Regions from separate parts of the Homo sapiens genome. Here region 2 is linked to region 1. The links come from fine-mapping of genetic effects on gene expression. A gene starts in region 1. The other region holds a variant in brackets. All regions are shown on one strand. Distances are between the middles of the regions.

Region 1 (4,258 bases):
GGACCAGCCAGAGAAGGCCGAGCAAACCCAGGCCCACTGTGCCACTTAGGCCGTCAGTGAGACTCCAGCTGGTGGCCAGCCCAGCCGTGCCCCCATCACCTTCGGAGCCCACATCTCTTTGGAGCAGCCAGACAGGCTGAACCCTAATTGGCCTGAGTCAGCCACGGGAATTCCTTTCTGGTTCAAATGTGGACATGTGAGCCCATCATTCCATGAGACACCAGGGGACATCCACTGGGACATGTAAGAAAAATTGTTGGCTGGGCACGGTGGCTCACGCCTGTAATCCTAGCACTTTTGGGAGGCTGAGGTGGGTGGATCACCTGAAGTCAGGAGTTTGAGACCAGCCTGGCCAACATGGTGAAAATTCATCTCTACTAAAAATACAAAAAATTAGCTGGGAGTGGTGGCCCACGCCTGTAATCCCAGCTATGTGGGAGGCTGAGGTAGGAGAATCGCTTGAACCCAGGAGGCGGAGGTTGCAGTAAGCCGAGATCGTGCCATTGCACTCCAGCCTGGGCAACAGAGCAAGACTCTGTCTCAAAAAAAAAAAAAAAAAAAAAAGTGAGATCCTGGAGGAGAAAGTCCCCTTTTCTGTTCATCTCTTCCTAGTTAGGATGTGATCATGTGGGACGTGATGTCTTGAGCCACAGCAGGCACTGGGGCCCATGAAGAAAGAGAAGTGAAGAGATGCCTACCTAGAGCGCAGGGAGCCTGCCCTGGAACACTGGAATGGCCCCACGTTAGACTTCATGTTATAAGATTTAATTAATATTTTTACTGTTGCAGTCATAGAAGATGGCCTAATTGGGGCAAGAGGAAACATAGGAATGAACCTGAGACAGGGGAGAAAATGGAGAGAGGAGGGATGAGAGCTGGAAGGGGGTCAGAAACACCCAAGCACGGGGTTCAGATGCACAGCAGGCTCCCTAAGTGTGAGTTGCTGTTTCTGCAAACAGGAGTTGTTCCCTGAGCACCTACTCTCTACCAGGTACATTTCCAAGCCCTGGGTGTCCATCAAGTCCTTTAATCCTCCCAGCAGTGCCAGGGAGGCTTCATCTGCTCCCCACATCTCTGCTTCCCCCGCCCCATGTTCAGATTCTAAAAAACCAAAAGGGCTCCCTCTAATTCATCTCGCCCCCAGAGAGCACTGACTCCCCACGGTGTCCCACTGAGCCCCACTGAGTCCAGTCCACCTCAACTTTCCTGCCTCTGGGAACAGGGTACCCACCCTCTGAGGGCCCCACTTCCCAAAGTTCTTTGTCCTGGCACAGCAGGTGCTGAGTAGCTCCCTGGACCTCTGTTTCCGCATCTGTAAAAAGCCACTAATCCTAATTGCACCTCCTAGGCTGATTGTGATGACCCAGGAAGGACCCTTGACCCAGTGTCTGGCCTGTAGTAGGGCTCGGTAAGCGTGAAATCTGATTATTGCCCATTATATTTATGGTTATACACAGGGCTGGCCCTGCCTCCTGCTGGAGCCGTGGGTCTGTCCAGGTTGAGAAGCTGAGGTGCTTGGAGCGTCCCCAGATCCCAAACAGGGAGCTGGAGTAGGAGGCGGGAGCATGAAGTCTCCTGGGCCCCGCCCGCCACCTCGCCCTGCCGCCCCTGCTCAGCAGCCGCCCCGCCCTGCCACCTTGGTCTCTGAGAACCCATTGTTCCTACCTGGCTCTGCTCCAGGGTCCTGGCCTTGCCACTTTCCTCTAGGATCCCCCGCCACCCCCGGGGCTTGGGCCTCCCCGCGGGGTCCTAAATTGGGTGCCAGATGTGGCAGCTGTCCAGCAATGGGAACAGGAGCTGGAACCCCAGCTCTGCCACATCCCAGCTGTGTGACCTTGGGCGCTTCCCCTCTCTGAGCCTCAGCTTCCTTGTTGGTTAAATGGGATGACGGGACCTCACAGGGCTGTCATGAGGGTTTCGTGAGCCCAGGATGGCAGAGTGCCCAGCATGTGGTAGGGCTCGGGAACATTCATCCTAATTTCTCTGCTCCTCACGGGCCTAGAGGAAGAGCCAGGAACATCAGAGGCAGTGGCCAGAGTGGGTAGAGCACTGGAAGGGGAGTCTAAGGCCAGGGTCCCGGCTCCAACCCTGCTGTGTGACCTCGGGCAGGCTGTGGGTATCTCTGGGCCCCAGAATGAGGGAAAGAAGTAGCTGGGATCCTCCTTCCTCCCCAGGAAGCAAAGCAGAGGGGTGGTGCCAAGTTTTCTTTTCATTTTTTTTATTTTCAGCACAAAGGGCTCAAATGGAAAGCAGCTGCAGAGACAGAGAATCCGATTGTGAAGGCACCCGAGACTCCAGGCAGGCGGAAGAGGCAGCGTCTTGGGTGCTGGGCTGGGTAACAGAGGCCAGGGTATTGACCAGAAACTCCAACAAGCAGGGGACAGCTTGGGGGGTGGGGGGTTGTCTCCCACCCCTTCTTCAGGGTGCTGGCCTAGGAGACAGGGACCCCGCCTCGGGCATCTCCTGCTTAACCTCAGTTTCTGTGTCCAGACATGGGCAGGCCATCCTGACTCTCTTAGCCTTGGTTTCCATCTCCAAAATGTGTCCAGTAGTGGCACCTTCCTTCTAGGGAGGGGTTGTGTGGTTAAGGTCTCGGGGCGGGCTCCTCAGTCAAACAGGCTTGGCTTTGATCCTGCCTCTGCCTCTCACTAACTGTGTGACCTGGAGTAAGCCACCTCCCCTCCCTGTGCCTTGATTTTCCCATCTGTGAAATGGAAACAATAATAGAACTAATCTGCTGGGGAGATGAACTGAGAAGACTCAGCCTGGTGCCTGGAGCAGAGTAAAGACTAATGATTATTGTTGTCTTTCTTTTTGGAGGCAGAGTCTCACTGTGTTGCCCAGCCTGGAGTGCAGTGGCAGTGGCGCGATCTCGGCTCACTACAAGCTCCACCTCCCAGGTTCAATCATTGACCCTCCAGCCTCAGCCTCCCGAGAAGCTAGGACTATAGGCTCACACCACCAGGCCCAGCTAATTTTTTGTATTTTTAGTAGAGACCAGGTTTCACCATGTTGACCAGGCTGGTCTTGAACTCCTGGCCTGAAGTGATCTGCCTGCCTTAGCCTCCCAAATTGCTGGGATTCCAGGTGTGAGTCACCGCGTCCAGGCATCTTTCTTATTATTATTATCCCAGGAGCTCCACCTGCTAAGGCCCCAGCCTCAGAAAGCCTCCCTTCCCCTGAGTGCTGGTTCATCTCAACAATTTCCTCACATATTTCTTGAGCAGCAACTATACCGGTCTTGGCAAAGCCAAGGTTCTATCTAGGAGAAGAAAGACATTAAATGAAGGACCCGTGTGTGAAGGGCTTGGTGAGTAGCAGGGGCTCATTGACACTGTTCACCAGCACCTGCCCCCTCAGCTGCTCTGTGCTGGACTCTTTCTGGGCTCTGGGGACACAGTCTTCAGGGGAGTCCCAATCAGAGGGTCTGGGTGGAGGTGAGAAGCTGGTGTGTGGATGAGGCAGTTTCTCACACTGTGGCAAGGTCTGTGATGGAGGAAGTCCAGGTGACTTTGGGAGCTAGAGGTCAGGATGGGCTTCCTGGAGGAAGTGGTTAGGAATGAAAATAACATCTATTCAGCATTATTATTATGATGTGTCAGGCACTGTTCTCTCCTCAACACCCCGCTCCAGAAGGTTTTCTTCTCACACACCCATTCTACAGGTGAGTCTGGGATCAAAGAGGCCCAGTAGGGTGTCAGAGGTCACGTAGCCAAGACATGGCAGAGCTGAGATGAAACCCCGCAGTGGGACACTGCCCCACTTGCCCCCCGACAGCGCTCTCCAGCCTCCAGGCCTTTGCTCCAGCTCTTCCTTCTGCCCAGACATTCCAGACCCTGCACCGTCTCATATCCACTCTGCTGGAGGAATGAAGAGAACAGCCCTTGGAGGCCGCAAAGTGTCCTCAAGCCTCAGTTTTCCCATCTATGAAATGGGGATAGCATGGGGCTTTCCTCTCGGGCTGCAGAAAGGATCGAGAAAAGGCTTATTATTCACCTAGGGCCTAGCCCTTGGGAACCAGTCCGGAAGGACAGCTGTTATTATTGCTAATGCTGTTCCTATCACAGTGACAGCGTGTCCCGTTAGGCCTGCAAACCCCTATACCTCAGTTTTTCCTGTAATGAAACCTGCCTGCTGAGGCCTCGGTGAGGGCTCATTTAATGATAATCTTTAGGGAAAAAAAATACACCCCCCAAGCCGCCTGTGTGGCTGCAGCCCACAGGGGTAACCTGACGCCCCTCGCCTGACCTGGCCCCCA
Region 2 (4,258 bases), 9.1 kb before region 1:
TCCGAGGGTTTATTCTCCAAGCAACAGAGATCCCTTAGAGAGGACTTTGCTGTGGACTGATGTGGGCTGGCCCACAGTTTTAATAGCTCCCTCTGGCTGAGTGTGGAGAGGGGATTTCTGGAAGACCAGGGAAGAGACTTCTGTGCCAGCAGAGATGAGCAGCAGTGGTGGCAGTGGAGGCAGAAGGAAGGGCTTGGGTCGGGGGTCTGTTTGCAGGAGCTGCTGGGAGGACCTGCCGAGGGAGAGAAGGGAAGAGGGCATGGGTGGGGGTTGAACAGAGACCCCCTCCACCCTCCAGGCCTCAAGGAGCCCCACAGGAAGTGGGTGGTCAGGCGGCCCAGCTGGGAAGGCTGACTGGTTTGTCCAGCCTGAAGCCCACGACCCTCTCCCCACCCTCTGCCCATGGCAGCCCAGGGCTAGAAATGTACCTGGAATGTCAGCCATGAAGCCCGGCCAGACAGTGCCCATGGGACCTGCTGGGGGCCAGGTGAGCACCCTGGCCACAGCCCTGCCTACAAGGGTAATCTCTCGGACCCATTGACCAGGGTAAGTGGTAATTACAGGCCCTGGAGCAGAGAGGGTGGTGACCTCCAGCCAAGACACGCAGGGACTGCGATTCGCACGCAGGACCCCTAACGAGGCACACCCTCTTTGTTGCTGAACAGGCAACAAACTGCCCCAGAGACCAGGGCGTGTCAGCAGAAAGAGCACTGGGCTATGAGTCTGAGACCCCCAGGGCCTTCTCTGAACCTTAGCCCCCTCATCTGCCAAAGAAATACTTATCCATGCACGCACGCTTGCATTGCTTCCCAAGTGTTTACTGGGCACTTGTCCTGGACAGGCGCTGTGCTGGGGGCTGGGTGTACAGCAGTGAACAAAACACACAAAAATCCCCACCTGGGCGATGGTGACATTCCACTGGAAAGAGACAGACAAGAAACAGGATATACCAGCAGGTTAATTTCTAGGATACGTGCTAAGTCCTAGGAAGAAATAAAAACAGCATGAGGCCATAGGAATGAGGGGCTGGTCAGAGAAGGTGTCCCCAGGGGTGACTTTGGAGCAGAGGCCTGACCCTAGACAAGGATCCGCCATGGGGAGAGCTGGCGAGAGTGTCCTCTGTTCCAGAGGGAAGAGTGGGTGCGAAGTCAATGAGGCAGCAGCAGGATAATTGGCAAGTTTATGGCAGAGAGATGAGGCCACCGTGGCTGTGGGTGAACAGAGAAGGGAGAGGCAGTGAGGTCAGGCGGGGCCAGGGCAGAGATCCTGCAGGCCCTGTGGGCTTCTGCTCTGAGTGAGTTGGGAGCCATAGAGGGTTCTGAGCAGAGAAGGGATAGGATCTAACTTGAGCTCTTACAGAATTCCTCTGGCTTAGGAAGGCGAGAGAGGAGGCAGGGAGACCAATGAGGAGACGACTGCAAACATCCTAGCTGGACCAGGGCAGGGCAGGGTAGTGGGGGTGGACCCTTGGACATGTGGATGAGTTTGCTGATGGGCTGACCATGGGAACAAGAGGGAGAACCCAGGTTGGGGGCCTGGGCAGCCAGGTGGCTGAGGTTGCCATCGCTGTAGCAGGGAAACTGCAGGTTTGTGGTGGGGGTAGACAGAGCTCCCTCTGAGCATGAGGCCCCACCCAGAGTAAAAGAAGGACTCCCAGTCCACACACCCCTGCCTCAAGCACAGATCAGTGAAGGGATTCTGTGGACAGGTGGCCCTGGAAGCTGTGATCTGCAGGGGCGAGGTGCCTGCTGTCTACCTGGTGAAAGTCCTACCAATGCAGCTCTTGAGGCTGCCCAGTCTCACACCCCAGGGAGCAAACTTGGCACCTGTTCTTTGCCCTACCCTGAACATCCGCTGGGCTCC[C/T]GGGGTTGGTCCCGATGTTCATTTGGAATCTCAGGGGTGATGGGTGGGGAAGGTGGAAAAACGCTGTACCTCTTTCCCACCCATCCCTGTCCCCCGTCAGCCAAACAGGGCTGAGGACTCGCGATCATTCTTCCTCTGCGCCCCTGTCCCCATACCTCTCAGAGACAGCGTGACTTGTGGCCTCTGCAGCCAGGAACGTGCTCTGGTCCCGTCATCTCACACTGCCCCATCCCCCTCATAGTCACTTGGTTTTCTGCACGTAAGTTCCCTTTTCATAGATGGAGGAACTGAGGTTCCGAGAGGTGGGGCAGGCTCCCAAGTTCACACTCAGGTTAAGTGGCAGGGGCGGGATTCACACTCAGGTCCATCTGATTCCAAAGCTCTTAAGCCCTGAGCATTATAGCTGCTGGCTTAGGTCGGCTCCCAGAAGCTGACCCAAGACAAGGTTTTGGGTGCAAGTGGGATATTTGGGAGGTGATTCTAGAAACACTGGGAAGGAGTGAGGAAGTGACACAAGGAAGGTAGATGAGCAGGTCTCCTCAGTGGGCAACAGGAGCCCAACCCCCTAGAGGCCTCTGGGACAACTCGCAGAAAGTACCTTCCCACTGTCCCCTGAGCCAGAAGCAAGGAAGCTGAGTGGGGGGACAAACAGACCCCACCTCTACTGGCAGGGGTCTCTCACTTGCTTCCCACACTCTTGTGGCCAGAGGAAGCCCTTGGGCAAGAGATTCAGGATAGCAGCTGCAAGGGCGACCTCCCAGGTGGGCACCAACAGCTTCTGAGCCCCCCAACTTCCAGGACAGCACTCACCCCAGAGAACAGGATGATGTTCAGTAGGATGTGACTGTGCTGCGTGACCTTGGCAAGTAGCTTCATCTCTCAGAGCCTCAGTTTTCTACTCTGAAGAAAGGAATCATTAAAAAAAAACAAAAAAAAAACTGTTTCACAAGGGTTGCCGGGGATTCGATGGGACATGAGGTAAAGGTCTGAGAATCACACGTGGCACATAGGAGGTGCGTTTTATGTATTTGTGGTTAAATGAGAGCATGCCTGGTGCATAGAAGCCACTCCACTATAACAGCTATTATCATTATTATTATAGTTTTGTTGTTGTTGTTGTTTAGGACCTCTCCAAGACTGCGCAAGCCTAGGTCTGCTCTGTGGGGACAAGATGGTGGCTGGACAACCTCCCCAGTTTCCTGGGTCCCACAGCCTCTTGCTTAAGGCTGCCTGAACTTTGGGGAAACAGAGGAGGAGGAGAAGGAGGAGGAAGGGGCGGAGGCTTAGGCCAGGCCTGCTAGAGGTAACCGCGGGCAGTGACCCCGCCTGAGAGGCCCCCATTCACCCGTCCACCCATCGCCAGAGCTGCCTGCCCATTCCACACAGGGGACGCCTCGTCTTGCACAACACAGGAAGGAGGAGGCCTGGGTGGCGGTGGGTGACGCCGGGACCCCGTGTCCACCCGGCTGCAGACAGGATGGGCAAGGGAGGCCCCGCCAGGCTTCCTGTGTGCCGAGCACACTGGGCAGAAAGGAGAAGTGGGGTCCAAGGTCACTGGGAGCTCTGGGCAGCACCTTCCCCTCCCTGGCCCAACTGTTCCGCCTGTTCTCCCTGACTCAGGCACCCAGGGTTCAAACCCCACCAGCTCGGCCATGTACCAGCTGCATGACTCTGGAACACGCAGCTCTCAGGGCCTCTGTGTCAGTCACTGCCAGGGTGCGGGGAAGCCCTCTGGGGGCTTGTCATCATCATCCCCATTTCACAGATAAGGAAACCAAGGCCATGGGGTATTTTCTCTCTCTCTTTTTCTCCTTTTTTTTTTTTTAAGACAGATGGGGGGTCTTGCCCTGTTGCCCAGGCTGGAGTGGAGTGGCACAGTCATAGCCCACTTCAGCCTCAATCTCCTGGGCTCAAGCAATTCTCCCACCTCAGCCTCTCAAGTAACTGGGACTACAGGCGTGCACCACTACACTCAGCTAGTTCTTTTTTTTTCCCCTCTAGAGATGGGTTCTCACTCTGTTGCCCAGCCTGGTCTGGAACTCCCGGCCTCAAGCGATCCTCCCACCTCGGCCCACCATCATAAGGTATTTTCAAACAGCATTTGTTATACTTGAAGATTTAGAGGTACAACAGGGGAGTGCAGACCTGAGGACCTACTGGGTGCCGCAGACACACCTATGAGGCCAGCGTGGCCCCTATCCTCCATCCTGGGTCCACAGCAGGCATCACTAATCAATAATGAGTCTCCTTCCTAGTATCATAGATGCAGCCTCAGAGCCCTGCTCAACACAGCTCTTCGGCCACAGTCTCCATCCGAGCACCCAAGGCCTGAGTCAGTGGGGAAGGTAGATCTGCCTGCTCCATCCAACAACAAACTGGACCAGAGGAAAAATCT

Alleles and levels. Alleles are on the strand shown, and positions count from the first base shown. SD is a standard deviation of normalised expression in the study named.
With allele C in place of T in region 2, the expression in spleen of the gene that starts at base 1,851 in region 1 is higher (moderate effect, 0.46 SD a copy in GTEx).

What was found.
Region 2: its variant is fine-mapped to the expression of PELATON in spleen (GTEx, PIP above 0.99). The same link has a PIP of 0.9 or more in whole blood.

What each region holds. Positions count from the first base shown.
Region 1 is chr20:50,265,071-50,269,328 of GRCh38, reverse strand. PELATON (plaque enriched lncRNA in atherosclerotic and inflammatory bowel macrophage regulation) reads right to left here and starts at 1,851. Exons shown (of 4, transcript NR_170992.1): 1 at 1,666-1,851.
Region 2 is chr20:50,274,151-50,278,408 of GRCh38, reverse strand. It overlaps PELATON (plaque enriched lncRNA in atherosclerotic and inflammatory bowel macrophage regulation), which reads right to left. Exons shown (of 4, transcript NR_170992.1): 2 at 2,674-2,758; 3 at 796-918; 4 at 1-232. Among named protein-coding and RNA genes, the nearest start is that of PELATON, 8.8 kb to the right of the region's middle. RefSeq lists enhancers at 400-937, 2,782-3,281, 3,282-3,783. The variant C/T (reference allele first, on the strand shown) is at 1,864.